Linked DNA regions of Homo sapiens. The protein of the gene in region 5 interacts with the protein of the main gene of each other region in a pairwise test. Each region holds a gene or a part of one and is shown on either strand. Other genes may lie near its edges.

Region 1 (3,818 bases), on a different chromosome or scaffold from region 5:
GTCAGGGGGCAGGCAAGGTGGGCAGTGTGGGTCAGGGGGTGGAAGAAGCAGCAGAGGGGCGCTTCCAGGCTGAGTCAGCTCCTCTGCTCCCTACTTCCCTCCTGCCCTGTTCCCAGGGGAATAAGGCCCCAGCCAGGCCAGCCCCAGATGCCCCAGAGGACACAGGTGACAGCGATGAGTGGGTGTTTGACAAGAAGGTGAGTGAGACTGAGGTCAGGAGGAGGCTCGTTTGTCTTTCATCACTTTCTACCTACGTGGTGCCGAGCCCTTGGCGAGGTCTCCATGGAGGTGCCACACTTGGCCGGGTGTGTTGCTGCCCCCAGCAGGGTCCCTGTGGGGCCCTCACACCTCAGGCAGAGGGTCTCTGTGAAGTGTGCTGATGGCCATCACAAGGATGTGGACACCCTCTCATTGCCAGGAAGCCCTCATGACTGGGCTGCTCCCTGGCTCCCTTCATCCTAAGCTGACCTTGACCTTGACCTTGTGCTCCCTCTCAACTCAGGAGTAGTTTCTGAGACACTTTTCTGCCAGTGTAGCTGCCGGGGTCTTGCTCCTGCCTGGCACTGTTGGTTCTTCTGAAGGCTGGGGTCTTGAGGGGTCCTCATGATAGCTCATCTGAGAGGACAGGTGGTTGCCCCAGGTCCCGTGACAAAGCTAGAACCCGAGCCCCTGCCCTCAGTCGGTGCCACAGAGATGATTTTGAACTAGATGCTGACGTGGATGCAGTCTTCCCACAGGCTGTGTTCCCCCCATGGACCCCCGGGACATCTGGCTGTTGGCGGAGGCTGCAAGGGCCTCTGGGGTCTGACTTGGATCTCACCCCAACTCTGCACCCCCCCAGCTGCTGTGTGAGACCGAGGGCCGGGTCCGCGTGGAGACCACCAAGGACCGCAGCATCTTCACGGTCGAGGGGGCAGAGAAGGAAGATGAGGGCGTCTACACGGTCACAGTGAAGAACCCTGTGGGCGAGGACCAGGTCAACCTCACAGTCAAGGTCATCGGTGAGGCCGGCCGGGGTCCAAGCTGGAGAACACAGAGGGGCAGCCCCAAGGAGGGCCCATCCGTTCGCTCATTCAGCCACTCGACAAACATCACGGGCATGCTCCCTGAGCCGAGCGGCAACAGGACAGGTTTTTCTGCCCAAAAGGAGCCCCGCTCTGGGGGAGATGGAGGCAGATGCATCCAGCAGATTTCCTGCGACACTGCTGTACATGAGCCATGTCCAGAGTGCCGTGGGAGCACTGAGCAGAGAGCCATCCCTGTGCCTGGGGGTGATGCCTTTAGGAGGCTGAGAAGATGGTGAGGAAAGGCATCCCAGGCAGAGGAAACTGTGTACAAAGGGGTGGAGGAGGGAAAGGGCCTTTTGGGTGTGGAGAATGAATGAAACATGTCAGGAGAGGACTGGGTGGGGTTGGGAGGATCAGAGCCAGGACAGGGGTGAATATGGGCAGTGAGAAGCCTTAAAGGGTTGACGGAGGGCTGGCGACATGATCAGAAATGCATCCTGTTGAGACCCAGCCTGGACAACACAGTGAGACTCCATATCACTAAAAAAAAAAAAAAAAAAAGGAAAAGAAGAAAGAAATGCATTCTAGAAAGATCTCTTTGGATCTGGGGGTGGTGGGGGCAGCCTGTGGCGGTTAGTTGGAGTGGGAAGGGGACGAGCAACGTTACTCAAGGCCCTGAGCGGGGCAGGGCTGATGTGGGTCCATCCCACCCCATCCAGACGTGCCAGACGCACCTGCGGCCCCCAAGATCAGCAACGTGGGAGAGGACTCCTGCACAGTACAGTGGGAGCCGCCTGCCTACGATGGCGGGCAGCCCATCCTGGGTGAGTGCAAGGGCACCGGATGGAGGTGTGAGGGCGCCAAACAGATCCGAGGGAAGGTGGTGTGGGGATGCCTGGGTTCCAGACCAGAGCTGCCACCTCCCCTGAGCCAGGCTACATCCTGGAGCGCAAGAAGAAGAAGAGCTACCGGTGGATGCGGCTGAACTTCGACCTGATTCAGGAGCTGAGTCATGAAGCGCGGCGCATGATCGAGGGCGTGGTGTACGAGATGCGCGTCTACGCGGTCAACGCCATCGGCATGTCCAGGCCCAGCCCTGCCTCCCAGCCCTTCATGCCTATCGGTGAGCCTGCCTGGCCTGGTCCTGCCCCCCGCCCCCTCCCCAGTTAAAAACCTCCAATAATAGCAGGTGCTCTGCAGGCAGCCATGCTAGACACTCACATCCACAGTCTCCTTTCATCCTCGACTGGGGATACTCAGCCGCATTTTACAGATGAGGAAACAGGCTCCAAGCAGTTAAATGACCTGCTTGAGATCTCCCAGCTGGTTGGGGTGGAGCTGACTCTCACACTACGCCGACCCCTAGTTCACGTTTCAAGCCTCTCTTTCCATGTCTACAAAATGGGAATAATGACACTGCCTATCTCAGAGAGCTGTTAGGATGATATGGGATGACCAGGCAGGCCATCTGGCATCTAACAGGTGCTCAATAAATGTTCATTGTCCCCTGTTCTCCACACCCTTCAACCCAGGGTTTTCACCTATGGGATGGGGCAAGGGCTGTAGTTAGTGGAGGGGTCTCAGGGGCATCTGTCTGTGGAAAGAGTCCTGGACCAAGACTCAGAGATGGCAGAGGCAGCTCCATGGTCCCCGGGGGGCCAACTGGAGTCATCCCTCCCTGAAGCCTCAGCTTCCTCATCTGTATAATGGGGTCTGAGTGGGCAGAACAGGTGTTGAGACTGTGGCAGGGCTCAGGAGGACACCTGTTCCCACTAGGGTGGGTGAGTCCGGGGGCAGCTGCCTGTGGCAAGGGCAGGCCAAGGACCCCTGGGCCCAGGGATGGGGCACAGCTTGGGAAGATGGCAGGAATCGGGGCCTGTGGGGAGAAGGGTCCAGGCCTCTCGTTTTAGGGACTGATTCCTGGTTTGTTCAGTTCTTAGTCAACTCACCTAATCATACGTGCCAGGAAATTCCCATGTTTTCTGTAGTTTTAGTTTTAGTTTTTTTTTTTTTTTTTTTTTTTTGAGATGGAGTCTCGCTCTGTCACCCAGACTGGAGTGCAGTCCTGGCGCGATCTGGGGTCACTGTAACCTTCACCTCCCAGGTTCAAGCAATTCTCCCACCTCAGCCTTCTGAGTAGCTGGGATTACAGGCATCCACCACCATGCCCAGCTAATTTTTGTATTTTTGTAGAGACGGAGTTTCACCATGTTGGCCAGGCTGGTCTTGAACTCCTGACCTCAGGTGATCCTCCCACCTCGGCCTCCCAAAGTGCTGGGATTACAGGCGTGAGCCACCGTGCCTGGCTGCTGTTGCTGTTTGTTTTTAAGCCAATCTACAGACATGTCTTGTAACAGGGACAAAATATTCCTTAAAGTGGCCAAAAGCCAGCTGAACAGGAAGTGCCCCCTATGTGACCAGTGGGCAGTTCAGAGTCTAGGGCATGGATCTCCAGCTTCCCCAGGCTTGCTCAGACCCCTCTCTGACCTCTCCTCTGCCCAGGTCCCCCCAGCGAACCCACCCACCTGGCAGTAGAGGACGTCTCTGACACCACGGTCTCCCTCAAGTGGCGGCCCCCAGAGCGCGTGGGAGCAGGAGGCCTGGATGGCTACAGCGTGGAGTACTGCCCAGAGGGCTGTGAGTGTCCCCGCCCCCAACCCCCCTCCCCAAAGGAAGAACATGCTCACCTTGCCATTGAGCAGATTCACCTGTAGTCAAGTTTTTTAGGCCCACTTTTGCCGAAAGTTGAGGACACCCAGAGAAATATCTGTCCTGTTTTCAGAAGTAAAAAAGCTTGCCTAGTGAAAAACA
Region 2 (4,923 bases), on a different chromosome or scaffold from region 5:
CATAACCACCTTCTTAGTGCTGTCTAGGCTGTTTTATGATAGAAAGGAAGTCACCCTTTACCCAGGTATCATAATAGAGGATCCTGAAACAGTGCAGATACATACAGTGTATCCATATAAATGCCTTTTTGCCAACAGGCCTGCTCTCATTAACTTCTACATTAGGTCATCAATTGAGTCTGTTAATGACTGCTGTTATTTATTTAAAATTTTGTCCAGCTTTATTGAGTATAATAGACAAAAATTTTTAAACTTAAGGTATACAGGCCAGGCACAGTGGCTCACACCTGTAATCCCAGCACTTTGGGAGGCGGAGGCAGGAGGATCACCTGAGGTCAGGAGTTCGAGACCAGCCTGGCCAACATGGTGAAACCTCATCTCTACTAAAAATACAAAAATTGGCCGGGTGTGGTAGCACGCCTGTAATCCCAGCTACTTGGGAGACTGAGACAGGAGAATCACTTGAACCTGGGAGGCAGAGGTAGCAGTAAGGTGAGATCACACCACTGCACTCCAGCCTGGGTGACAGAGCAAGACTCCACCTCAAAAAAAACCTAAACCAAAACAAAACAAAAAAACCCAAAAAACCAAAAAACAAACAAAACACTTAAGGTATTCAATGTGATGTTTTAATATACGTATTTACTATGAAATGATTATCATAATCAAGGTAATGAACATATTCATCACTTCACAGTTACCTTTTTGAGTATGAATATGTGTAGTGAGAACACTTAACATCTACTGTCTTAGCAAATTTCAAATATACCATACAGTATCACTAACTATAGTCACCATGCTGAAGGTGACCTATACTTAGCAGATGATCACCTTAGAAGGTGACCAGAGCTTATCCTGCATAACTGAAACTCTGGCTGATATCTCCCCATTGCTCTCACCCTCCAGCTCCTGGCAACCACCATTTTACTCACTGCTTTTATGAGTTCGACTTTTTTAGATTCCACGTGGATCATGTGGTATTTGTCTTTCTGTGTCAAATACCACCCAGTTTAATTCTCTTAGCATAACGTCCTCTAGGTTCATCTCTGTTGTCGCAAATGACAGGATTTCCTTCTCTTTTTAAGGCTGAATAATATTCTATTGGGTGTGTACATATACATCTGTATGTGTATATATGTATGTGTGTATATATATACAGATATATACTGTGTTTTCAAAAATCCATTCATCCATTGACACTTAGGTTGATTTCATATCTTGGCTATTGCGAATAATGCTGCAGTGAACATGGGAGAGCAGATAGCTCTTCAACATACTGATTCCATTTCCCTTGGATATATACCCAGAAGTAGGATTGCTAGATCATATGCTAGTTCTATTTTTAATTTTTTGAGGCAGTCCATTCTGTTTTCCATAATGACTATACCAATTTACATTCCTGCCAACAGTGTACAAGGGTTCCCTCTTATCCACATCCTTGCCAACACTTCTTATCTTCTGTGTTTTTGATAACAGCCATTCTAATGGGTGTGAGATGATATCTCACCGTGGTTTTGATTTGCATTTCCCTGATGATTAGTGATGGTGAGTACCTTTTCATATATCTGTTGGCCACTTGTATGTCTTCTTTCTAGAAATGGATATTCCTTTATCATTTTTTAACTGGGTTATTTGTTTTCTTGCAATTGAGTTTGTTGAGTTTCTTACATATTTTGGAATATTAATTCCATATCAGATGTACGATTTGCAATCCATAACTTCATATCAGATGTACAGATTCCCCTATTCTGTAGGCTGGCTTTTCACTTTATTGATTATTTCCTTTGTGGTGAAGAAGTTTCTAGTTTGATGCAATCTGTTAATGATTGTTTTTAAAGTGTGCACAGGGTTCCAGGACAATTTTACTCTCTTGAAATTAGAAGCCCAAAATATTTTTCTCTTTAGGATGAAATTTTTGCTATTCTACTTGTATTTATAATGCTTTTGTGTAATAGAAAAGTTGGCAAATTAAATTTAGGTAAATGAACTTCTTCTTTAATTGCATCCTAAAATAATTTTGTTCTTAAAATAATACAAAAATAAAAAAATTTTAAAGGGAAAAATCACTCAATTATTACTTCTGTACTATGAAAAATTACTCAATAATCTTTTCTGTGGATACACCTTTTCTTAAAGCGGAGAAAGTTTTCCCCACATTGAGAATAGAAAGGTTAGAGAGATATGTGGAAACATTTGATCACACCCGAGAGTGTCAAAATCAGACTCTAGCCCAGCATTAATTTTAAACCATCCCCAAAACAAAAACAAAACAAAACAGAGATAGAAACAAGAAAACACATAAAAGACAAAGGAAAAATGCTTACATGGATTCTAAGGCCACAGAATAGCAAGTTTCATGAATCATTTGCCCAATATCATGTATGCCACATGCATTTTTCTAAACATGATTTATTGTCACAGTAAGTGCAACAAAACTCTTTTGGTTCACTTCATGTGAACTTGTGAGCCACCGAGGGTGCAGACTGGAAAACTTTCTGCAATAGGTACCTGGACTCTGTTTACCTGACACCAGTTCATTATTCAAAGTGGTGCCAAAAAAGCAGTCATAGGTATTTTAAATGTTAACTCTGTGGTCAAAAACACCAGTGGAGAGCTGTGTAAATTTAGGACTGCTCACACGGGAGACAGAGATGAGCTGCTCATAAACTCCAGGATTCATCAAATCATAGGCGTATCTTTCTTGTTTGCAGTCATATCCCCACTGGCTAACAAAGGGCTTGTCTCATAGTAGGTGCTCGTTAAATATTTATTTATTAAATACTAAATACATTGATGACTTAATGAGATAGCTGTGAAGTTTCAGCAGAAGGGGCAGGGAAGGAGGGAAGCAAATTGGTATTGATCAAGCACTTCCCATGTGCCCGGTACATCCTACCTTTTCTTCTGCATAATCTGAAATATTATTCCCACTTTATAGATAAGCAAGCTAGGACCAAAGAAGTAAAGTGAATTGTTCAAGGTCCTCTAGCTAGGAAGTAGAAGATGCAAACTCAAGACTGACCCTGAAACTCTCTTCTGTATATACATACTCTCTTGATTCTCTCATTGATGAAACAGGCTTATGGAGGAGGGGCCACTCTCCTCTGTGTATCTGTGCATGGGCCTCTTGCTTTTCCTTTTTCTTTTCTTTTATTTATTTATCATTTTTTTGGAGCAATTTTATTTTAATGCTCTCACTTTAACACCACTTGCTTTTTCTTACCAAGCAGATTGCCAAGAAATTCACTCCAAAGGCAAACTTTTGCATGAGTTGAAGATTGAAGATTTCGGCTGTCATCTTCATAAGAAAAAATGCCCTGAGGCCGGGTGCGGTGGCTCACACCTGTAATTCCAGCACTTTGGGAGGCCAAAGAGGGTGGATCACCTGAGGTCAGGAGTTCGAGACCAGCCTGATCAACATGGAGAAACCCCATCTCTGCTAAAAATACAAAATTAGCTGGTCATGGTGGTGCATGCCTGTGATCCCAGCTACTCGGGAAGCTGAGGCAGGAGAATCACTTGAACCCAGGAGAGAGAGGTTGCGGTGAGCTGAGATCACGCCACTGCACTCCAGCCTGGGCAACAAGAGTGAAACTCCAACTCAAAAGAAAAAAAAAAAAAGCCTTGAAAATATAAACAAGACTGGTCCTGTGAATGCGCGTTTGTGGTTTCAAGAGGACTAATTAGGTACCGTATGGGTTCACATGTCTATCTACATAAATAAGTACCCAAACAACCTTAAGTTATCTGTGTTTCAGTGTCAACACTGCACACCAAAAAGGGGAATGTGTACTGGTGATAGTTAAAGGTCATTCTAGGTCTCAATGACATCCAGAAAAAAGTCTGTGCTCCTAAGGACAGGGCACCCATCCAACTGTGTCCTTTGTTTCAAAATTCGTCCAAACCTGTCTAACCCAGGTCATTCCATTTACTTTGTCTGTCTCCTTGGCAGGCTTAATTTTCATTTCTGTATCTACTTTTCTTAGTATAACTTATTTTCATATTAAAGTATATTTCCCTTGTCTACACTGTAATATCCACAAAGGTGGGTTTATCACCTATTTCTCACTATGCTATTGCAAAGTTTTCTGCATACAGAATAAAGGCTGACAAAGTGAGTTAAAGGTAGTGGATATGCTTTTGTATGAATACTGGGAAATGAAAATAAGGATGCACAAATATCTGGGGTGGGAGAGAAATTGGTTGCTCATGATTTTACTGGTTTAATTTTGCTTTGTTTCATTTTTAACATACAATTTCAGTGACTTCCTATCAATCACAGCCATGCTGCTTTCTTTCCTCTCTCTCTCTCTCTCTCTCTCTCCCACCTCCCCAACCTCACTTTTAAAGAGACAGCATCTCACTGTGTTGCCCAGGCTGGTCTCAAACTCCTGCGTTCAAGTGGTCCTCCTGGCTCAGCCTCCCAAACTTCCGGGAATATAGGCGTGAGCCACTGTGCCCAGCCAAAGTCATGCTTCTTATTACAAAAGTCATATCCCTAGGGGTCGTGTATTACATTGTGGAAATTTTGGGAAAATTTTTAATGTGAAAATAGCCATCTATGTGTTAAGGAAAGAAGGAAAAGTTCATGTAATTTTTAAAAATATTATATGAAATTCCTAGAAAACTCTGTACTTGTAGTACATCTCATGGCTAAAAGGATGCTGTTTTCTGTTTTCGTTTTGTTTTGCTTTTCATAGTAGCCTTTACTTTTGTGAGAGCAGTTTTAGGGTTACATAAAAATTGAGCAGAAAGTACAGAGCTCTTAAAATAGCCCTTCCCCAGCCTCCTGTCCCCTCTCTACAAAGCATGGTTTTCCCCTATTACTAACACCTTGCACAGTGTAGTATACCTGCTATAACTGATGAACCAATATTGACACATTATTACCACCTAAAGTCCATGATTTACATCAAGGTTTGC
Region 3 (5,378 bases), on a different chromosome or scaffold from region 5:
GAGTTCGAGACCAGCCTGGCTAACATGGTGAAACCCCAAAGCTACTAAAAAAATATAAAAATTGGCCAGGCATGGTGGCACGTGCCTGTAGTCCCAGCTACTTGGGAGGCTGAGGCTGAGGCAGGAGAATCACTTGAACCCAGGCAGCAGAGGGTTGCAGTGAGCCGAGATTGTGCCACCACACTCCAGCCTCGGTGACTGAGTGAGACTCTGTCTCAAAAAACAACAAAACTAATAAATAAAAAAAAATCTGTTGCAGGAAAAAACAATTTCTCCAATTAATTCTGACCTTGCCCAAGGGGCTGTCTGCCATGACAGCTTCCCCAGAGTTTCCTGTGACATCCCTTGCTCACTCCTCTTGGGCTCCCAGGGCACGTGCAATGCTTCCTTTGGCAAAGTTTTCTCTCAGACCAGCAGGGAGGTCTATTTTCTCCCCAAGGGCAGGATCTCTGCCTGGAACATATGATACTTTATGAATGGTTTAACCCTTTGCGCATCATCTCACTGGTCTGTTGAGGCTGCACTCTGGTTCCCTAAGTGTAATGAACATTTTGCTGTGTTTTGGTAATCAATATCTTTCTTTTCCCCTTTTCTGTGGTTGATACTCGGGCCTTTTTTCTTAATCAAATATTGATATATGGTATAGTTATTAGAGTTTACTCATTACTATTTTGTTTCTTCAAAGCAAAGAGAAAAAAAATTTTAACCAAACTCTGTTTTAAATGTTGGCTTCTGAGTTGAAATGAAATGCCATCTTACTAAAAGCATACTGAATTCTAAAGACCATTTTGTACAGTCTATAAAAATACCTCATATAAATAGTTGCTTTTGAAACTTGGCTAGATTGAAGGATTATGTGGGTCTTTCAGGAATTGTGGTGGTGGTGCATTGATGTTATTGAGTCAGTTTTCATTGTGCGTGTGTGCGCGCCGAGTGTGAAAATCAACCCCCTAGGGAGAACTACATATTTCTAACTTTCATTGTGGAAGAAAGAAACTCACTTTGTGTAAATCTTGACATATTCAAGTTCAGCTCGTACCTGTGAGTTTCTATTTTGTATCTCATGGTCTTGGATCCAGGGGAGGGTGACAAGTTCACAGGCTTGGCCTGCTGGCTTTCTGTTGTGAGTTGTATGCTAAAGGTATAGTGTCTCCTCCTAATAAATCCACTCCCGTTCCACAGTCTACAATGGCTCCACCAACCCATAGGGAGTGGTCTTTCCTCTGCACAGCAAGAATCATAGTACATCAAAATGTCTTTTATTTGAGACACAAAAATGCAAAATTGCTGAGATATCAAACATTTCCCGATCAGCTACAATACTGCCACTATGTACAAAAGATCTGATGATAAATGTGCACACATATAAAAATACAGTATGCATTACTTATGTACAGTACATGTGCAAAATGTATGGCATTCAAACATGATATGGAATTGATTTCAGGGGTGCAAACAGCAAATACAAAGGCATCATGGTTTTTCTTTTAAAAAACAACATAAAGGCAATAGATGAATGGACCCCCGATTGCCATAATTTTTTGTTGATTAAACTAGTGCTTCAACAAGCAGGGCTCTGTAGATTGGTATCTTTCTCCTTTTTTTCATAAAGTGAGATGCTAAGACATAATGTGACAATGAAAATAAGAAGAGAAACACCTATCACATTGCATTTCTATTGCAAGCAAGAAAAGAAAACTAATTTCTACATAGAAAAAAAACTTTGTATTACTACTGAATGTTACTCTTAAACCAACAAAACAACTCTATACTATTTTACATGAAAACAATAAGAGAAATATCTACATCTTAGTGAAAATTATAACCTTAAATGGATAATACCTTTTTGGGGCTGATTTTTGAGATCTCATTAGTCTCAAATTTTAAATAAAAAGTGCCTCCTTTTGGCAAATACTTGGCAATGCCTTTGGTTCCTTTAAAGCAAGTTTGCATTACTATTGGTTACTTGAGGTCAAGTACTTTTGGTAGATACTAAACCCTTTCCTAAATGCTTCCTCTTCCTACCAAATTAGCAAGATTCCTTACAGCATCACGTAGAGAGGTAATTGTTACGAGTTTCAGTATTCTATAAACTTTGTTAAAGCTTTGTCTTAGTAGTTGGCATAAAGCTCTGTTAAACACTATAGATGTGATGATATCTCTGATAACATATTTTATTTGATTCCCGACAGCACCTTGTAGATCCGAGATTGCCATCTTATTGTCACAAAGCTGTGACACCACAGAGCAAAGTGTTTGCATGGAGGGTAAGAGCTCTTCTGTAAACATGTGCAGCTTTTCGAATTGTAGGCCTTCCATGAAAGATTTCAGGTAGAAACCCTTTGTAATGATGTGTTTCCCTGGATACTGCAAGAAAGGGCGAATGTGGAAAAAACACGCACCTGCTCATTGCCATGCAGACAGAGTCACTTTACAAATAAAAATGTAGCTCAGAGAGACTGCTGAATGAGCAAGTTATTGAAGGTTTGAACCAGGAAAAAAAAATTACTACATCTTAGTTGTTTTCCAGTTTTGACTGAAATCACTTAAAAGATGAGTTGAAATGCAGTTAGGATGCTCTCCAGATACACACTGATGCATTTGTAAGCTATGTTCCTTGAAAAACCTGACCTTCCAGTTAATGTTCTTTGATAATTTTGGGCTAATTCTGTGGCCTCTAGGGCGGTGGGACGATTTGTATGGGTATTCTCTTGTCAGTATTCAATATTCATGTTTACAGTAGCAGATATTGAAAAATGGAGGGTTATTTGTGAATTTGGTTAAATTGACACATGTTGCTCTGCTAGTAGACACTGAATAGCTATTCTCTTTACATTTCTCTAAAAAGTCCCCAGCGGCACCATGAGCTCCCCACCTGAGTGACAGCCAGGACTTCTGTGAGGCTACCGTCAGGTGGGTGCATGGAAGCCAGTGAGGATGTATACTGAAATGTGGGCTTCTCACAAATATTTTAAACCCTGCCAAAGTGCTTTACCACGTCTCTAAGGCCAAGTCCATTTGAGGACAGTAAAGGGACTATCTCATCACTTGTGGGGATAGCTGTTTTGTCAACTGCTATGGCTGATTTCAGCCTGGGAATTCTGAAAGGACTGTGAAGAAAGCTATGCTGCCTGGAATGATCTGGGGTTGAGGGTCCAGGAAGCCTGAGTCAGCTCTGGTGACAAAATAGGTAGTGCGCCCCTGAGCCATCACTCAGGGTATGCTGACTGCACAGTTCAGAGGTGCTATCTCATTACTATGACTTTGCCTTCCATAGGCAGCAGCTTGCAGGCAGCACCACCCTGCCTTTGCCACTGTTTCTAAACAGCACTGAAAGCCAAAAAGTGTCAGTTACATGGATCACAGAACCATGCGGCTTTTAAAAAGGAAATTTAAATAAGATCTCTTTTAGAATTACAAAAATATTCATATGAAACAAACACAATAGTATCTAAGCAAGAAATTCCACAAATTCAGAATACATCTATGTACAATTATGTGGCAATACTATACAGTAGATTGCACATTTCAGGAAAAACACTAGAACGTGAACCACTAACACTGTCCTATGAGGTTTCCTAGTGGATGCTTTGCTGAAATGTACAAGATGACCACCTACTCCTAGACTTTCAAAGACTTTACAGAAATTTTGGTATAACTTTTAAATTCATCCCACCCCCAGTAGGATGATCTGACTATCTACATACAGCAGAAAGGTAAGGCTGGTACTACTGTGTTTTGAGAACATGTAGGAAAGTAAGATGGGGATGTGAGATAATGCCTTTCTAGGAGTTATTTTCTTGGCAGTATGATACTTTACAATATGATATACAACAGTACCACTGCTTAAACCACACACGTGCATAATGAAAATTCAACTGGCGACTTTGACTTGTGCTGTAATGGCTGTGACACTAACCTAAACAACAACAACAACCAGTCTTTAGTCAATATCCACCCTTCCTCATTGCACTCACCATCACACGCACTGAGTCCGGTCAGAAGGGCCTTGTTTACAGAGTATCATCTTTGGTCATGTCACATGAGTGTGAGCACATAGCGCGTCCTCACTCCAACCTGGAACATGTAGTGGAGATCCTGGAGAGCAGCACTCGTGTCACAGGTGCCTGGCTGGTGACCCAAGCCAGGAGAGAGGAGGGTCAAGCGGAATGGTGCAAGTGGAGTGGCTTGCAGAGTTAATGGGTAGAGATGCCTTGTCTTTTTAAAAGTGAAATACTGGTTTATAAAGGTTTAAACACATATGTGAAGTGGGCACTTTAGCAATTCATAGGAGAGTAGGCCAATGAGATAGCATTTTCTTGCACTGCACTGTGTATTTTTGGAGAGCAACCTTCCTGTGGCATGTTTCAAACCCTATTTTAAAAAGCAATAAAGGGACCCGAGAGCTAGAAAACTATCTACACAATTCAGGATTATGGAAATATAAAGTTATTCAACGAGAGTCAATGGTACTAGTGTTCGGTTACCTTCTACAGTCCCACTGATATTTGGTGCTAATTTAATAAGCCATTCAAATCTGAATGAAGAAGATGCTCAGGGTCTAAGTATGGACCTGATAGGCCCAGACAGAAACCCTCAGCAAAAAAACTGTGGCCAAGAACTGTAAGAAAAATACTTTCCCAAGTAAATAGCCTGGCCCTGGAGACAGGCCCCTCTCAATGGAACTGACTCGAGGATTCACAGAACATCTAGTGTGGTAAACTCTTGTAGGGCTTGGTCAAATGACGGTGTTCTGGTTAACAGAGAGTTATTGTATCCCGTGTGTTGGTTTACCAATTTCTGAACACTTAAACTATTCATCACAGACTACACTGAGCACAGTGGCCTCTGCCTTGAACCGTCTGGAAGGCACATGAGCACTGTTAGTGCCTTTGAGTCAGGAAGTGCCAGTGAGCAGAGGGCTCCAGTGTGCTCATGCTGGAAAAGCAGACTTTTGTTACACGTAGTAAAATTTATAAACCACACACACACAAATCAGAAATAAGATCAGCTCTTAGGCAAAACACAAACCCAGAAATAATTCACAAATTCTTTCCAAATAACGGGTCAGGCTGCCTCCGGCATGTCAGTATGGAACATTTACCATTTTGTGACCCAGGGGAACCAACCTGACCTGAGGGTTTACACAAGGGTGAGGTGGAGAGCACAATATTATTATTTAAGAAAAATCTCCATGCTCTTTTGGTAGATTTCAGTTTTTTGTTATTTACATTTTGTCATATACCTCAATGACTAGCTTGAAATAATCCTGTGATAGTTGGCATTTTAGAAAATTCTTAAGAAATGACTTAACACATATGTAATAACTGTTTTCTATATAAAAACACTAATAAAGCCTCCAGTTTTTCAATCTTAGG
Region 4 (4,923 bases), on a different chromosome or scaffold from region 5:
TTGTCATTTGGGTGGATGCAGACTGCTCACTTATAAGCAGTCTCAAATGGTTCAGTCCAAGACAAGCCTTAGTTGTTTATATGGAAGCTCAGCCTGCTCTGAGTTTGGTCATGCCGATGATTGGAGAGATTTTTTCATCCAGGGCTTTCTGTAAACTCGGGTTGAATACATGCGTTGAACTTCTTGTCTAGAAGTTAAACTGGATGCAGCCTGACACCCTGTGTTATCACAGCTGGGCTGAGGCTACAGTGCTGCAGTCAGCCCCCTCATGCTACCAATGGGTCCATGGGAAACAACGAGGGTCAGTGACCTGCTCATCGTCTCACAAAGCCGGGAGCAGGACCCCTGCCTCCGAGCTCTTGGCTCTCTCAGCTGCTGGCGGATGACTGCCAAGAAGGGTCCTGACTCGGGAAGGCATCAGGCTTCCAGATGTGTGTTTGCGTGGGCCTTTGAGAAAGGTGGAGCCATGAGTGTCCGAGTAATCAAAGATAATTACATGGTGACTGACGAGAAGGGCTTCAGCATAACTTGTGGAGCTTTGCCTAGAAAGTCAGTGTTCCCAGCCAATAGTTTACATTTCTAAAACTCCTTAAATTGGTTCTTTGGATTATGCAATTGCTCTGCCTGCATTTTTCTTACAGAATGTAAGGCAACTTGTGAAAATAACATTTTGGATTTTTCTCCCCCTGAGGGAGAGATACGTTCAGTGCGGAAAAATGAACAATGGATTTTGTTCGTTGGTGACGGCGTAGTGTCCACAGGATGTGGCTGGCATGGAAGCGAGGTGCTGCCCTTCCCGTGCTTCTTAGGTTCAGGGTCCAGTGTTTCATAGATGACTTGGAGCATTGCTTTGTACGCCCGGCCCTGACACATTGGTGTCGTGGTCACCTCATCTCATCTATTTCTAGAGGGCCCCTCCCAATATATCCTTCCAAGGTATTTTCTCTGCATCTCTCCCCTTAACTCCAACTGGGGGCGGGTGTCCACTGTCCATGTGATTTATGATTGTGCATCTGCGTCTATTTTTGCCCCAAGTCTGTTAGCATTTCCCATTGGACATGTGCGTATATGCAGAACGTGCATATGAGTGGAACACAAAGGAATATGTATCAGGTGGAATGTGGACGTGGCATCAATCCATGTGTTGAGGAAGTCATTCCTGTTTCCAATCTCAGTCTGTGTTGAGTCAATGGGACGGTGCCTCTCTGTCGATGGTAGCTTGTCTGTGACAGCTTTCTAACACTTGCTAATCTCTCCTTTGATCAAAAAAAGAGCAAGTCTTTACCATAACCCCATAAAAACACCATTATCACGAGTGGAAATTTTAAAACTGTATTTGAATTGTATTTATTTGCATGCTCAACTTTTTTATAGGTTAAATGATACTGGTTTTCTACTTAGGTTGGTGGCATTTATTTCTTCTGAAACAAATAATATGAAGCGAGTAGATTGGATTAAGAGGTTTGGATAAGGAATTGCATAATTGGCGCGAAGACAGGGTCCTCTGTTATGAAGGGGGCACGCAGATGTCTGAAATGCTGGTAACAGGACCTTAGCATTACTAACGCCTGCACTGCGATTCCCTCCCCACAGTGACGGAAGGTCGAGGGATCCTTGAGAGCATCCAGAGGTTTTCCTTGCTGCCCACCTACCTCCCCGTGACCTACCACATCAACAACGCGGACGTCTCCTTCTTCCTGAAGGAGGCCAACCAGGATATCATGAGGAACTCCAGCCTGCAGTCCCGGGTGGAGTCATTTCTGATTTACAAATCCAGGAGGCTGCCTGTCCTCAATGCCAGCTACGGGCCTTTCTCCATCGAGCAAGTGGTGCCCCAGGATTTAATGCTACCTTCCAACCCATTTGGATTCACCAACAAATTTTCTCTTAACTGGAAACTAAAAGCCCACATCCTGCGGGACAAAGTCTACCTGAGCCGGCCCAAAGTGCAGGTTCTGTTCCACATCATGGGCAGAGACTGGGACGACCGCAGCGCCGGGGAGAAGCTGCCGTGCCTGAGGGTCTTTGCTTTCCGAGAGACCCGAGAGGTGCGGGGCAGCTGCCGGCTGCAGGGGGACCTGGGGCTGTGCGTGGCCGAGCTGGAGCTCCTGTCCAGCTGGTTCAGCCCCCCCACGGTGGTTGCCGGGAGGAGGAAGTCCGTGGACCAGCCGGAGGGGACCCCCGTGGAGCTCTACTACACCGTGCACCCAGGGGGTGAGAGAGGGGACTGCGTCAGGGAAGACGCGAGGAGAAGCAATGGGATCCGGACAGGCCACAGTGACATCGATGAGTCCGGGCCCCCCTTGCAGAGGATCGGGAGCATCTTCCTTTATCAGACACACAGGAAACCCTCCCTGAGAGAACTGCGTCTGGACAACAGCGTGGCCATCCACTATATACCAAAGACCGTGAGGAAAGGAGACGTGCTGACTTTTCCTGTTTCCATCTCCAGAAATTCCACTGAAGATCGCTTCACGTTGAGGTAAGTCGTTTCCCAATGTCTGTCTGTACCCGCCCGTCGATCAGGTGGTGTTTTCCAGAAGCTGTTTGACCAGAAAAGCTGTGTTATCGCTCACCGAAGTAGAGCCGGCCTTCCCGTTCTTACAAACTCCATCTGCACCGTGGAATACAGAGACCAGTCTGATCGTTCCGGGTTGGCAATTGGGTTGTGAGAATATTCGTCTTAATAGATTTTCCAAGCCATTGATAGGGCAGCCGGGGGGCTGCTGATGGTACGCCTTTTCCCTTAGCTTAGGGTATTATCAGCAAGTTTTGGGAATGCTAAAATTATCCAAGAAGGCTTTTCAAAATTGGGAGAGTTAAATGCCTCACAGCTGAAATGAGACTGCAAATGAAATGGCAACAGTTGTCAGAAAGGACAGGGAACACGGTTTTGCCAACTCAAAATCTATTCCAGATATGTAAGTTCTAAGTATAATATGGTACCAACCTCAAAGTTACCATTTTGTTTCTCCCTGGAAATAGAACTTAGTGTTCAAAAAAATAAATGAGCATAACGTGTGAAGAATATACAGTAGAATTTGTTGAGTTTCTTATATAAGAATATACCAAAGAGAAGACATTGAAAATAAGCTCTGTGTACTTTAGAATAAATATAGGCTGGTTTTCACTGTGGAATATAACGTATGAGAGAAGCTACTTGCCTAGGCTTGTTTGTATTTTCATTATATAGTTTTAGTTTTATTTTCAACACAGGCAAGTTTGATTACAACAGCTGTTTAGTAGAAGTGTTTTTGGGTTATTAAAAATGTCCTAGCACTGCTACATAACTCAACAATTTGACCTGATGTGCAATGTAATAAAATGTGTGTTATGACTCCTGAAATGAGGAGTGTAACTGTATGTAAGACATGTTTCATATGTGGGCTTATAAACTTCATCCAATGATGACCAGCTCTCTATCCCCCTTCATATGGGATTTATGGCTGCTTTTTCTAGCTTTTCTTTTCTTCTTTTCTTTTTTCTATTCTTTTCTTTCTCCCTCTCTTTCTCCCTCTCTCTTTCTCCCTCCCCTCTCCTCTTCCCCCTCCCCTCCCTTCTCCCCTCTCCCCTCCCCTTTCCTCCCCTTTCTCCTCCCCCTCCCCTCCCCATCTCCTCCCCCTCCCCTCCCCTCCCCCTCCCCCTCCCCTCCCCTCTCCCCTCCCCTCCATGCCGTCTCCCCTCCCCTCCCTCCCCTCCCCCCTCCCCTCTCCCCTCCCTTCTCCCCTCCCTTCTCCCCTCCCCTCCCCTCCCTTCCCCTCTCCCCTCCCCTTTTTTCCTTTATGTTTAAAGGGTGGATGAGTTTAAGAAAATAAATCACCGTTTTGATTCTACCTTGCACATTTAAGTTTATTTGATTGTGACCTAGTATTAGAAATGCCTATTTTAACTAAAGAAACAGAACCTAATGGACATGCATCTAATGACTGAACTTGGCTAAGTCCTGGAAGGTAAAAACCTTTGGCCTGGCTGGACGTGCCATTCGCGGAATAGCCGCAGGGATTTAGGGTACAGGAACACATCTGCGCTGGCCAAGCCTTCATTAGCGTTCCCTTCCGTCCTTCTGGAAATCGGATCTAGATCCAGCTGGCCACAGGTCCTCAATGAGGTCTGCTAGCTTTGTGTTTTACTTTTCTGGGTTCAACAGTCTTACATAGTATTCTTTGTGAGGATGGCTGCTTACGTAGAGAAATATTTTGGTGGTGGAAACAAAAAGTTTGAATAGGGGAGCTTTGATCTTACACCGTTTCATACCGTCTGCCATTTTTTAGGTCCGCCAACGACTGACTTGATTTTCTGAACGCAGGATTAAACACTGCAATCCCCTGAAGCTTTGACTCTCAGGAGATGAGAGCCACATGCAGCTTGTGTGTGTGTGTGTGTGTGTGTAAGCAGTGATGTGTGTAGCACTGAATTTCACAAAAAGCTTTGTGTCTCATGACTTTATGACACACTAAACATATCCATTAGGGTCCAAGGGTGGCTTTTATCTTTGGCAGTCTGTAACAAAACCAAGAGAAATTCACTATGTGTGGCTGCACAATATGAGGCTCCAAGTCTTGGCAAATTCACAAGCAAATGCATTTGAAGCTTCTAAATTTGGTGGCTCCACTCACAGGTCAAAGTTTGGAAAATTTGAGAAGTACAGCAAAAGTATATTTGTTCAGAGCCCATCAATTAGAAATGTCAATTCAATTTGAAAAATCAGTTTTACAGATGAGACAACAATGAAGGAAATGTTTCATGAATGTCTGTTTACCTCGGTACGATGCTACACTGTTTCTTTAAGAGGTTGCATTAATAATGTGCTTGCTGCATACTTAAAACGCTCTGATTATGGATGAGTCTCATGTGTTTATGTAAACAGCTGGAGGTTAACTTGGACCTGGCAAGATTATTATCCTTTAGCTTGAATCCCTATAA
Region 5 (4,923 bases):
GGTTACTTTGATGTCCCCGCAGCCTCCCTGGGATGGAACCCCTCTCCGTGAGAATCCCATCTCAGGTCTAGTGAGGGTGATGGGGCTCTGACCTCCATACTCAGCATCCACACCCTGCTGTGATCTTGAGGTCTCCTGGCGGCCTTATTTTAAAAATCATTTTCTGTCTCTTTGCTTGCTCAGCTTTCCTTCTTAAGGTCCATTTAAGATTTTTTAAAAAATCCTGGTGTTCCTCTTTATAAGGTGAATTGTTCAACATGTCCATTTCAGGTGGAATGCATTCATTTGGCTTTTAGAACTGATTTTCTGTTTGTAAGTAGAAATTAACTCCCAATTAGCTGTGTGAGAATTTGTATCCTCTGTATCTGCTATCAATAGAAAAGAACAATTCGGTTCTGGGCGAAGACCCAAAGGGCTTTTTATTAATAATGCACCTACGATTTGTGAACTGTGTTTAGGTTCATCAGAGGCCTCTCGTTTCTTTCTGGACTTTCAATTACGTTCTGAGCATGGAAAGTTGGCAAATAACTTAGGCTTGGATGGATAGATACAGTCATTGAATAGAAAAACCATATTGATATTTTTAGGTTTTTAAGATCTCACATACTTTAAATATTTCAAAATTTTAAGTAAATACTCTTTCATACATTCTGAAACATTATATCTAATTTATCTCAGCCAAAAATTTAAGACATATACATGTTGCAGTTGCACACCTGTTACTCCAAAACAAACAAACCGCTCCAGCCAAAACCCAAATGGGAAAGCACTTGATTTTCAGTAGCTTAAAATATGTTGAATTAAGAGGTAGGTTATGAAAGTGAAAATGACATCTGAATGTTTTAGTGGTTTTGGATATAAATTTTCTTAGGAATTTTTTGTTTGAGTTAAGCTGATAGTTTAGTTTACTGTGTGCTATGTTGGTTGCAAAATTCAGCTACATTTGTTTATTTTGCAATTAATTCAATTTGTTTGCAAATATTGCATCAGACATCTAAACCAGCTAATAACTCTATAGGTTTGAGCCAGGTTAGAAAAAAAGGCTTGGCTGTACCGTTAAGAAGCAGCTAGCTCTCTAAATTGTGCTGATAGTCTTAATTTCCCCCGGATGTTCATTTTAGCCACACACACATAACCATTTGGATTTATGATTTCATACATTTTTTATTGGAAGTGCTGAATATTTTAAAATTCTGTGATTAGATAAAATTGGTCATTGTGCTTCAGAATAGGGTGACTCAGCTTCATGGGATGTACTTTACCCAACACAGGATTCTCCCATTTGAGATGGAATTTATTAATTTGGATTTGTATCAGGTCTTCACTCCAGAGGCATCAGAGAGCTTTCAGGCAGCCAACTATTCTTAAATATTTCAAAAGGAAGTTGCAGTGGGCACGTGGCGTGGAGAACACAGCAGAGCAAAGTGATGTAGGGGCCATAACAGCCAACATGCTTTGTTTCCTTCATTCATTCACCTACCTCCCCAAAAGTCCAAAGAAGTGTTTTCCCTGCTCTCGGTGCAGGAGGAAGATTTTATCTGGAAATTGAAGGTGTCAATGGCCAGAGAAAGAAGGAGGAACATTGATTTTCATGAATAACCAGCTGTGTGACCTTGGGTAAATTCTTAACCTCTCTGAGCCTCAGTGGCCTCATTCATTCAAACAAGGGTTGGACTAGAGGATTTTTAAGACCCCTTTTACGTATTGGGATTCTGTAATCCAAAGGTTTCAGAGATCGAGAATAATCTGTCTTCCTTGGAAAGGCAACACCTTGTATCTGGAAGGTAGTAGTTCAAGGTGGGAGAGCAGGAACAAATTAGAAATGTGTTGAGAAAGAAGATCTTTTTTAAAAAGTCCTCTCACTGTCCTTGCTTGTTTCTGTTGAAATACACAGACTGTTTCTCCCTTCTCTGATGGCTTCATAATCATTCTTTGTCTTTGATTCTTATTATTTATTTTATTTTATTTTATTTTATTTTCATTTTATTTTTTTGAGATGGAGTCTCGCTCAGTCTCCCAGGCTGGAGCTCAGTGGCGCAATCTCGGCTCACTGCAAGCTCCGCCTCCCGGGTTCACACCATTCTCCTGCCTCAGCCTCCTGACTAGCTGGAACTACAGGCGCCCGCCACCACGCCCAGCTAACTTTTTGTATTTTTAGTAGAGACGGGGTTTCACCGTATTAGCCAGGATGGTCTTGATCTCCTGACCTCGTGATCCACCCGCCTCCGCTTCCCAACGTGCTAGGATTACAGGCCTGAGCCACCGCGCCCAGCCTGATTCTTTATTTTGGAAAGTTTCTGACACCTCTTTAAATTAAGCTCTCATAGTTTCTTTTGTGTTCATTTAAGTATGTCTATTTTCTTTTCTCTAACCTAATTTATTTTTATCTTCTTTTGGACATTTGTTTTTTCTCCTGATGTGAAACCCCAAAGTGGTCACAGCAGACTCGCTCAGGGATGCCTGAGACCGTCAGAATCTTCGTGTTCACAACAAGATGGGATGTGCTTGGCTTTCGTTTCCCTTTGAGTTTATTAGTTCACTGCCAGGTATTCATTTATTCTCAACAGTTGTTTTCTGAGCACTTACTGTGTGTCAGGGACTGGTATAGGTGTTGGGGAAAGAGCGGTGGGAAACAAAATTCCTGCCCTCGTAGCGTTTAAGTTCCAATGGAATGGTACTAAAGTACCCTGAGCGATTCTCTTGATCTTCAGCCCTACATCTGTTGTTCAAGTGCTTAGGTTAATAACAAAATGTAAAATACCTACCATGGTTTCACATAGTTATGTGTGTCTGATGTAGGGGCCATAACCGTGTGTGTGTGCCTTGAGAAAACTTAAGATCTACTTCTTGGCAAATTTTAAATATATAATACATTGTTAGCAACTATAGTCACCATGCTATACCTTAGGTTTCCAGAACTTACTCGTAACTACAAGTTTGCATCCTTTGACCAATGTCTTTCCAATTTCTCCTACCTCCAGCCCCTGGTTACCACCTTTCCATTTTGTTTCTGTGAGTTCAGCTTTTATATCAAAACATCATGCTGCACACCTTGAGTATATACAATTTGCATTTGTGAATTATACCTCAAAGCTGAAAAAAGACCCCAAAAAACCCGGCATGGTTCCTAACCAAAGGAGACACTTGTAAGGCTTTGTATCCTCCTACAGTTTGCATTTTGTATCTTCTGAAATTCTCTCTTCCCCTAGAATTCATACTGATAAAGCTTATACGCATTTCAAAATATATGTTTGAGGCTGGGCGTGGTGGCTCATGCCTGTAGTCCCAGCACTTTGGGAGGCCAAGGCGGGTGGATCACGAGATCAGGAGATCGAGACCATCCTGGATAACATGGTGAAACCTCGTCTCTACTAAAAATACAAAAAATTATCGGGCATGGTGGTGGGCACCTGTAGTCCCAGCTACTCGGGAGGCTGAGGCAGGAGAATGGCGTGAACCCAGGAGGCAGAGCTTGCAGTGAGCAGAGATCGCGCCGCTGCACTCCAGCCTGGGCAACAGAGTGAGACTCCGTCTCAAAAAAAAGGAAAAAAAATATATATATATGTATACTTGAGGCAAGTACAAGTCAAGTACCCATCTCTCTCTATTTTTAAAATTCATGCTTTCTCTGCTATCATAACATTCGGTCTATAAAACGTTGATTTCATTACCAAGGCAAAGGTTGATGTTGATATCAAGCAGGATGTTACAGAAATAAATCATTGGATCCACTTTACTTCTTTCTTACTTTCAGACTTTGTCTCAGAACTTTATTAAACTTAGCAAAAGTTAAAAAGAAAGGTAGTCTTAACTGAAGACTTTGAGATGATTTTAGAAGGAGTTTAGTAACATTGGATGAACTATTGTGTGTCACTAATCATGTCAGAGAATGTAACTTACAACTGAAACTTTGGAGTCTGTAATCTTTCTGTGTGTTTTTTTTTTCTTTTTAAGACGATTCACCTGGTCACTTCTATCACTGGGTGAAGCTGATTGTATATAAGCTAGATCTGCCTTCTGCCTACCTTTATGTTAGTACTATTTTTACGTTTAATTTTGCCCAAGTTGAAAGAGATTGCTTGGTTCATGGGGCCTTAAACATTTCAACATTTGTCCTTCACAAGATAATTATTTCATTAAAAGTAAATTACAATTTATTCAGTAGCTCTCCACATGAAAATAATAATCAGATGGTAAATGGATGCCCTAAGATATGTGGAGAACAAATTACCGTGGTATTTTAAAGGAGAGAGTTTTCTAAGCTAACTTTTATGCATGCAGCATCTCCCTGGCTAACATGAGCATTGATGATAATTTCTACCATTAATGAGCTCATTTTTTTTTTTAATGAGACTTTGTTTTTACTTTTAAAAAACAGTAACCTAAGGCAGGTGAAGTCAAATTGTTATTGCTGGGAAGTTGTGTTTCAAATGAGCACTGTAAATGATTTTGTTGAGCAGGCGTTTTTTGTTTTGTTTTGTTTTTGAGACGAAGTCTCACTCTGTCGCCCAGGCTGACATGATCGATCTCAGCTCACTGCAACCTCTGCCTCCCACATTCAGGTGATTCTTCTGCCTCAGCCTCCTGAGTAGCTGGGATTACAGGTGTGTGCCACCACACCCGGCTAATTTTTGTATTTTTAGTAGAGATGGGGTTTCGCCATGTTGGCCAGGCTGGTCTTGAACTCCTGACCTCAGGTGATCCACCCACCTCGGCCTCCCAGAGGGTTGGGATTACATGTGTGAGCCAAGCAGATGGTTTTTAAACTGGGGTCCAAGAACAAGCTTTAGAATGTTAGAATATCTCCCCAAAACCATATGGAAAATGCTAGGGGTTTTTTTTTTTTTTTTGAAAGCTCATTTAATAAAGGAGAGCATCCATTGTTTTCATTACTCTTCTTAAAGGGGCTGTGACTCCCAAAAA
Region 6 (3,338 bases), on a different chromosome or scaffold from region 5:
CAGAGACAACACAGAGTTTCTCCAATTCATAAAAGGTATTTTAATATAAAAAATAATACATAGATAACAGCTTTAAAAAGTGAAAGAAATGTATTATCTAAATTTTAAATGGCTTAGAATAGGGGCCAGATGGTGACTATCTGGGGTACTGCAGGTCCATGCAATCTTTGTGGCAGTTCTTTTCTTTTTAGAATGTAAAAACCATCCATAGCTTGCTGGTTGTACAGGCTACCGGCCAGATTTGGCCTATCGGCAACAGTTTGCCAACACCTGACTTAGATAAGAGAACTACTCAATTATTAATATGAATTTAAATAACCACTTCTAAAAATCTACTCATACTGAGTTAGCTTATTCAACCAACAAGGGGAAATAAAAAAAGACAAAGATGCTCACACTAATAAATCTTGATTAGCCATAACTGTTTACTACCTTCTCCATTCCCATACCCAACTTCATTATAAGAAAGGTAAATAATAAATCAATCGGAAAACCAAACATATTATGGAATCAGAATAAACATGGAATCTTCCATACTTCCAACATCTAAAATTCAACAAATTACATTTATTTGGTTCTTTACAGGTGACACAGCACTTTTACATAATTATCTCACTCAACCCATATTCAAAATTAGGATCTGAGGCACTACCAAGAACCTGAATAAGTAATACTTTCAGGAAAATAAAAAATATGACTGTTCAGTTTTAGAAATATAGTTAAGGAGGGTTAAACAAAAAATGGTTCTAAAATAATGTCCACTTTGAACATTCTACTTAATGTTTTAATAAACTTAAAATGATATAAAAAGACTGGGCACGGTGACTCACGCCTGTAATCCCAGCACTTTGGGAGGCCAAGGCAGGCAGATCACTTGAGGTCAGGAGTTCAAGACCAGCCTAGCCAACATAGTGAAACCCCCGTCTCTACTTAAAATACAAAAAATTAGCTGAGAGTGGTGGCGTGTGCCTGTAGTCCCAGCTACTCGGGAGGCTGAGGCAGGAGAATCACTTGAACCTGGGAGGCGGAGGCTGCAGTGAGCCCAGATCGCATTACTGCACTCCAGCCTGGGTGACAGAGCAAGACTCCATCTCAACAACAACAAAAAATCACAGTGCCAAGTCTAGTGATTCCACGTCTACACTAGTCCTATCCATAGCCTTTGTTGGAATAAAATATGAAAAGAGATGGTAAAAATGATACCTAAAAAGACACTAGATGCCAAACAGTCCCAGTGATCAGTAATAACTAAAAAACTATGAGTATCAACTACTATGTCCCACACATAGTGGTTTCCATATACTATTTTACTCAAACTACCAATAATCTTAACAAAGCAGGTATTCTTACTTTCTCCACTTAGTAGATGGGGAAAGACAGGTGAGATAGTTATAAATTACTTAGCCAAGGTGGGACGTGGTGGCTCATGCCTGTAATCCCAGCATTTTGGGAGGCCAAGGCAGGTGGATCACCTGAGGTCGGGAGTTTGAGACCAGCCCGGCCAACATGGCGTAACCCTGTCCCTACTAAAAATACAAAAATAGCCAGGTGTGGTGGCCTGGGCCTGTAATCCCAGCTACTTGGGAGGCCGAGGCAAAAGAATCGCTTGAACCCGCAAGGCAGAGGTTGCAACGAGCCGAGATCGCGCCACTGCCCTCCAGCCTGGGTGACAGAACGAGACTCTCGTCTCAAAAAAAAAAATAAATTACTTAGCCTAAACCAATGAACCCAAGTAATCTGACTTTGGAGTCTGCACTAAACATGTTTGAACAGAGCAAAAAGATAGATAGATGCAAATGGTCCTCATTTACGCAGGGCACTATTGCCAGGAAGAGGTCACAAAGAATCTACTTGTATCAGAGACAAGTATTTCACAGTAGGGAAAGGAGAACAGCAAAACATAAAAGGCTTTCAATAAGAACTTTTACCTTGAAAAATTAAACCCAAATATGTAGCAATAACTTGATGTTGTATGAAATACCAAGTAGGTTTTAACAGCAATTATCTGGTAATTTTTAGTATAAAACAAAGAATGATGCTTTAAAAGAGAATAATTTGAATTCAAAGATGAGAAAGTGCTCGAGAAAAGCAAAACTTTTAATAGTTTTACAAAAATAATCCTCTTTATGAACATGCTGACATCTTAGATATGATCATGTATCATGTATGGTGGAAAAATTCCTATACAACTTCATCAACGCAGGAAGCATCAGGGACTAAAATAACACAATCTCAGATTAGGGGACTTCACGCCCATCCTTCCCATACCCATCACCAATAAAGACATTTAGGAGTTCAGCAACAACAATGACAGTTGGGCAGATTTGACACAGGAAAATGTCTAAACCTTCCATCACCTAGCAGGATAATTCTGAAAATTCATTGTGCAGATAAGACAGGTAACTTTTAAAAAATGCTTATTTCTGAACACTGCACTGAGGGTAGACCCCCAAAATCAGTTTCAAGAGTGTGAGATAAGAGGCCTACAAATCACTCTGTCCTTTACAAACTCCCTCCTCATTCTCTGCATTTGCCTAGGATATTCACTCTATATGGAATATCTTTTTCCTAGCTGATTCTACCTGTTCAAATTTTACCGACTACCTGAAGCCATTTTTGATTACTCTGTTATTTGCCTCATCTAAACTCTCGGATCATTTATTCTATGATATGCAGTTTAGCACTTTATAACATGTGGTAGTCTTATGCCAGTCTAATTATTGTCAAAGATGTCAATCCTTTGTTCTAACTCACATAGGAGACTTTTTGTTTTTTTTTTTGTTTGTTTTTTTTTGTTTTGAGAGCTGGAGTCTCGCTCTGTCACCCAGGCTGGAGTGCAGTGGTGCGATCTTGGCTCACTGCAACCTCCACCTTTGTGTTCAAGCAATTCTCCTTCCTCAGCCTCCTGAGTAGCTGGGATTACAGGCATGTGCCACCATGCCCGGCTAATGTTTGTATTTTAGTAGAGATGGGGTTGGTTGGCCAGGCTGGTCTTGAACTCCTGATCTCAAGTGATACGCCCATCTCGGTCTCCCAAAGTGCTGGGATTATAAGCGTGAGCCATGGCACCCAGCCTCACATAGGAAACTTCTTAGAGCAACTTAAAGTTGTTCAACTATGTTATACGTCTTTCTTATGTTTTACTAAGTCTAGTACAGTAAAACATATACAATTAATTATTATTAAAATCACCTTAAGAAATACTAAAAACAAGGCCAGAATATAAGAAATAAAATATTGAGAGCCTATTAACAAACTCAGCTTGTGAGTGATTTCAGGGAATGGAAAGTTGAGTCAAAAAAAAATAGGAAAGATTTTAACAGCTTTCTGTGGATTTT
Region 7 (4,005 bases), on a different chromosome or scaffold from region 5:
CAAGGATTTGTGAGACCACCCCCCTTTCATCAAGAAGGAGGCTGTGTCTAGAGAGGGACATTCCCAGTCCCAGGTCACCGAGAGGTCATGGCCTGGTCCACCTTCCGGTCCCATCTTGAGAGAGGTGCCCTTGCCCAGGTTGCCCTGCTGTGCCTGCTAGGCTAGGGCCAGCAGGTTGAGATGCACCTGGCCAGGTCTCTTGTCCCATGGGGAAGCTGACTGGCCACATCTAAGGCTGCCTCAAAGGCTGGGCAGAATTTGAGTCTGGAGGAAGTGCTTGGAGGACCTGGGGTGGCTCCGCTGAGGATGTGGACTGAGGGTGAAGCTTGGAAGGACAAGTCAGGGCTGCCAGGGGTGGGGCGGGGGGAGGCGGGTGTGCTGGGGAGCCTGGTGCATCTGGGGAAGTGTCCCAGCTGCAGGGATAGGTCCTTTCCAGCCTTCGAGGTTGGCCAGTCGAGGCGGAGCCCCTCCCGTTAGCTTTGCCCTTCCCGTGGGAGTTACTGGGCTCTCAGACCTGCTTCTGCAGCTGGGAAGGGCTACAAGAGCAGGAAAAGGCACCGTGGCTTGAGGCTGCACGGAGTCTGGGCAGTGCTTCCCGGGAAGTACCTTGGGCAGAGCCCAGCTCGCAGTGAGCGCTCACAGGCGGAGCGGCTGCTGGTATTGCCCCCCGTCTTCATTTTCTTCCTAAGATGACCGTGAGTGTTGTGTCAGAGAAAAGGATGGCACTGGTGAAGGTTAACCAAGCACCTGATATGTGCCAGGCCAGCTCCTCTCCCGGTCCCTGAAGCTTTTCTTTTTTTTATTTTTTTTTGAAACAAGGTCTCATTCTGTCACCCAGGCTGGAGTGCAGTGGTGCCATCTGGGTTCACTGCAGTGTCCACCTCCCAGGTTCAAGTAATCCTCCTACCTCAGCCTCCCAGGTAGCTGGGACTACAGGCATGCACCACCATGCCTGGCTAATTTTTGTATTTTTTGTAGAGATGGGGTTTCGCCATGTTGTCCAGGCTGGTCTTGAACTCCTGGGTTCAAGCGATCCTCCCACCTCCACCTCCCGAAGTTCTGGGATTACAGGTGTGAGCCACCCTGTCTGGCTGAAGCTTTTCTTTTCTGGGTCTTTTTAGCAGCTCTGGTGGTGCCTGGATTGTAGAGGCGAGCTATGGGCAAGAAAGTCAGTCTGGAGCGGGTCTGCCCTGGCAAAGGGCCTGCCCCATTAGCTCCATCTTAGGGTGGCACATGGAATCCCCATCACCTCACTGGCTGCCCTGCCGGCCTTAACCCGCCCGTGCATCCTGGCCATGCCAGCTACCTGTCTTCCAAAGCTCCTGTACTTTTGCCCAACAGGGCCTTTTAACAAGAGGTCCAGGAGCCCCCAGCTTTGGGTACCACATGTGCCCGTGGCTTTTTTCTGAGGCGAGGCCTGATGGCTGTCATGCTTCAGCTGCCTAAAGGGACCTGTGACCCAGGCACTCTGAGGCAGGCCCACTACTTCAGCCTGCCCTTCCGGCCCCGAGATCTGGATCCCACAATGTCATGATGGGGAAGGTCCGGGGTTCAGGCGGCAGTTCAGTCTGTTCTGCCCCACTCGCTCCCCGCCCCCTGCCCATGTGACATCTGGATGCTCCCGCGCTCGGGGTTATGTTTGTGCAGGAACACCAGCTCCTGCTGCTACCTGGCCCACGTGCTGCACAGGCACTGAAGGTTCACCTGAGGGCCACACCATAGTGTCGGGGCCAGCCAGAGGCGGGTGGGGGACAGGGTTCAGGGCAGGTGGGGCCAGCTCCACCTTGATGACTTGGAAGCTGAGGTGGTAAATGTTGAGTGTGATGATCTTGTTCTCGTTGGGGGCTGCCATTTGTTTGAGCCTCAATTTCTCATACAAACGGGGCATATTCTAGGGCAGAGGCAGGCAGATGCTGCTTGTGAGTGCTAGCCCCAGCACAGGACTTCCTGCTCTGTAAGTGGGTGCTTCCTGGCGGCTTTGTCACTCCTCCCTGGTCTAGGGGAAGGAGCCAACTTGCTTGGTTGCTCTTGAGAGCTGAGATGGCTCTAGGAGCGGGGCATCCCAGAAAGCGGACTTCAGCTCAGTCTTGGGGAGGAGCCTCTGAACCTCCATGCTTTCTCCTCCAGTGGCCAGGGCCGGGACCCCGGCCTGACGCCTGCCCCTCCTCTCCCAGAGCATCATCTACTACGTGAGCCGCTCACCAAAGCTGGAGGTGTGGCTCAGCCATGAGGGCATCACGGCAGCCCTGAGGCCTGTGCGGGTGCCCGGCTATGCCGACTCGGATCCCACCTTCTCGCTGAGTGTGGATGAGGACTATGACCTCCGCCTGTCTGGCCTCTCGCTGCCCTCCTTTTGTGCTGTGCACCTCGAGTGGATCCAGTACTGCGCCTCCCGGCGCAGCCAGGTCAGGCTCCACTACCTGAGGCTGCCACCTGGGGCTGTGGGACCTGGGCTTCCCTGCTCCCCTTCTCCCCATTTGGTTTCCTCTCACTCTGAGCCTCCCTTAGCCTGAGCCCCAGCCCCCACTCCAAGGTCCCTGTCCCAGGTCTGAGCTGGGCTCTGGGATGGGGGTCCTTATGCCACAGCCCGTGGACCAGGATTGGAACTCCCCGCTGGTCACGCTGTGTTTTGGCCTGTGTGTGCTGGGCCGCCGGGCCCTGGGGACAGCCTCTCACAGCATGTCTGCAAGGTGAGTGCTCGGGTGTCCCGCGGGGCCTACTGCCGTCCCCACCCCACCTCTTCCACGAAGAGCACTGTGGTCTCTGGCCACAGTGGCCACAGAAACTGCAGTGGCCCTTCCTGTTGGGGTACCTCTTCTCCCACGGGCAGGGCACTTCCTGGTCATGACCTTGCCTGCTCCTCAGTGCTCTGTGAGAGACATGGGCAGAGATTGGCCTCTTTGTCAAGATGGGGAAACTGAGGCTCAGCGTGAGGAAAGGCCTCTGCTTGGATCACTCTGAAGCCTTACCCCTGGGTCCTCGACACCCCTCTCTCCCCTCCCTGTTTTTCCTCCCACTTAGCCTGGAGCCCTTCCTCTACGGCCTGCACGCCCTGTTCAAGGGGGATTTTCGCATCACCTCCCCACGTGACGAGTGGGTCTTTGCCGACATGGACCTGCTTCACCGCGTTGTGGCGCCTGGGGTTCGCATGGCCCTCAAGCTTCACCAGGTTGGGGAGGGGTGTGCCCAGCAGCATGGGCAGGTGGGGGATGAAGCCTCTCTCCAGGGCAGGGGCCACTGACCCCTGTTCCCGTCTTCTCTACCAGGACCACTTCACGTCCCCAGATGAATATGAGGAGCCAGCAGCCCTATACGATGCCATTGCGGCCAACGAGGAGCGGCTGGTCATCTCACATGAGGGTGACCCAGCATGGCGCAGCGCCATCCTCAGCAACACGCCCTCCCTGCTGGCGCTGCGCCATGTCCTGGATGATGCCTCCGACGAGTACAAGATCATCATGCTCAACCGGCGCCACCTCAGCTTCCGAGTCATCAAGGTTGGGCCGGCCCCACCTGCCCTAAGCCCTGCCCCAAACCCCCTTGGGCCGGCCCCCTGACCCTGGCGTGTGGCTCTCAGGTGAACCGGGAGTGCGTGCGCGGCCTGTGGGCCGGGCAGCAGCAGGAGCTGGTGTTCCTGCGCAACCGCAACCCCGAGCGTGGCAGCATCCAGAACGCCAAGCAGGCGCTTCGCAACATGATCAACTCCTCCTGTGACCAGCCGCTGGGCTACCCCATCTACGTGTCGCCTCTCACCACCTCGCTGGCTGGCAGCCACCCCCAGCTACGGGCACTGTGGGGTGGCCCCATCAGCCTGGGTGCCATTGCCCACTGGCTCCTGCGCACCTGGGAGAGGTGAGGCCTCGGGAAGGGGTGACGTGTGGCGCGGGAGGAAGCTGAGGTGCAGTACGTCCCTCCTGGGTCTCAGAGGGAGGACGTGCTGGAGCCAGGGCTTGAATCCCGAGAGATGACCCCCTCCCAGAGCTGACCTGCCCCTCCTAGATGTCA

What was found.
Region 1: the proteins of SVIL (region 5) and MYBPC3 interact in a two-hybrid assay, tested with the Homo sapiens proteins (one study listed by IntAct).
Region 2: the proteins of SVIL (region 5) and PPARG interact in a two-hybrid assay, tested with the Homo sapiens proteins (one study listed by BioGRID).
Region 3: the proteins of SVIL (region 5) and MRTFB interact in a two-hybrid assay, tested with the Homo sapiens proteins (one study listed by BioGRID).
Region 4: the proteins of SVIL (region 5) and TMEM132D interact in a two-hybrid assay, tested with the Homo sapiens proteins (one large-scale study listed by BioGRID).
Region 6: the proteins of SVIL (region 5) and LUC7L2 interact in a two-hybrid assay, tested with the Homo sapiens proteins (one large-scale study listed by BioGRID and IntAct).
Region 7: the proteins of SVIL (region 5) and PCNX3 interact in a two-hybrid assay, tested with the Homo sapiens proteins (one study listed by BioGRID).

Annotation. Positions count from the first base shown.
Region 1 is NC_000011.10:47,335,703-47,339,520, reverse strand, and holds part of MYBPC3 (myosin-binding protein C, cardiac-type), read left to right. Parts: intron 1-116; coding exon 117-197; intron 198-841; coding exon 842-1,001; intron 1,002-1,726; coding exon 1,727-1,831; intron 1,832-1,941; coding exon 1,942-2,130; intron 2,131-3,509; coding exon 3,510-3,644; intron 3,645-3,818. UniProt on the Homo sapiens protein: Thick filament-associated protein located in the crossbridge region of vertebrate striated muscle a bands. In vitro it binds MHC, F-actin and native thin filaments, and modifies the activity of actin-activated myosin ATPase.
Region 2 is NC_000003.12:12,374,647-12,379,569, reverse strand, and holds part of PPARG (peroxisome proliferator-activated receptor gamma), read right to left. Parts: intron 1-4,923. UniProt on the Homo sapiens protein: Nuclear receptor that binds peroxisome proliferators such as hypolipidemic drugs and fatty acids.
Region 3 is NC_000016.10:14,262,639-14,268,016, reverse strand, and holds the end of MRTFB (myocardin-related transcription factor B), read right to left. Parts: 3' UTR 1,244-5,378; downstream 1-1,243. UniProt on the Homo sapiens protein: Acts as a transcriptional coactivator of serum response factor (SRF). Required for skeletal myogenic differentiation.
Region 4 is NC_000012.12:129,697,369-129,702,291, reverse strand, and holds part of TMEM132D (transmembrane protein 132D precursor), read left to right. Parts: intron 1-1,593; coding exon 1,594-2,482; intron 2,483-4,923. UniProt on the Homo sapiens protein: Regulate neuronals morphology via inhibition of the WAVE regulatory complex (WCR), a complex that controls F-actin cytoskeletal dynamics.
Region 5 is NC_000010.11:29,624,094-29,629,016, reverse strand, and holds part of SVIL (supervillin), read left to right. Parts: intron 1-4,923.
Region 6 is NC_000007.14:139,418,573-139,421,910, reverse strand, and holds part of LUC7L2 (putative RNA-binding protein Luc7-like 2), read right to left. Parts: intron 1-3,338. UniProt on the Homo sapiens protein: May bind to RNA via its Arg/Ser-rich domain.
Region 7 is NC_000011.10:65,631,952-65,635,956, forward strand, and holds part of PCNX3 (pecanex-like protein 3), read left to right. Parts: intron 1-2,127; coding exon of another isoform or gene 2,128-2,174; coding exon 2,175-2,405; intron 2,406-2,586; coding exon 2,587-2,690; intron 2,691-3,021; coding exon 3,022-3,169; intron 3,170-3,266; coding exon 3,267-3,497; intron 3,498-3,577; coding exon 3,578-3,852; intron 3,853-3,999; coding exon of another isoform or gene 4,000-4,005.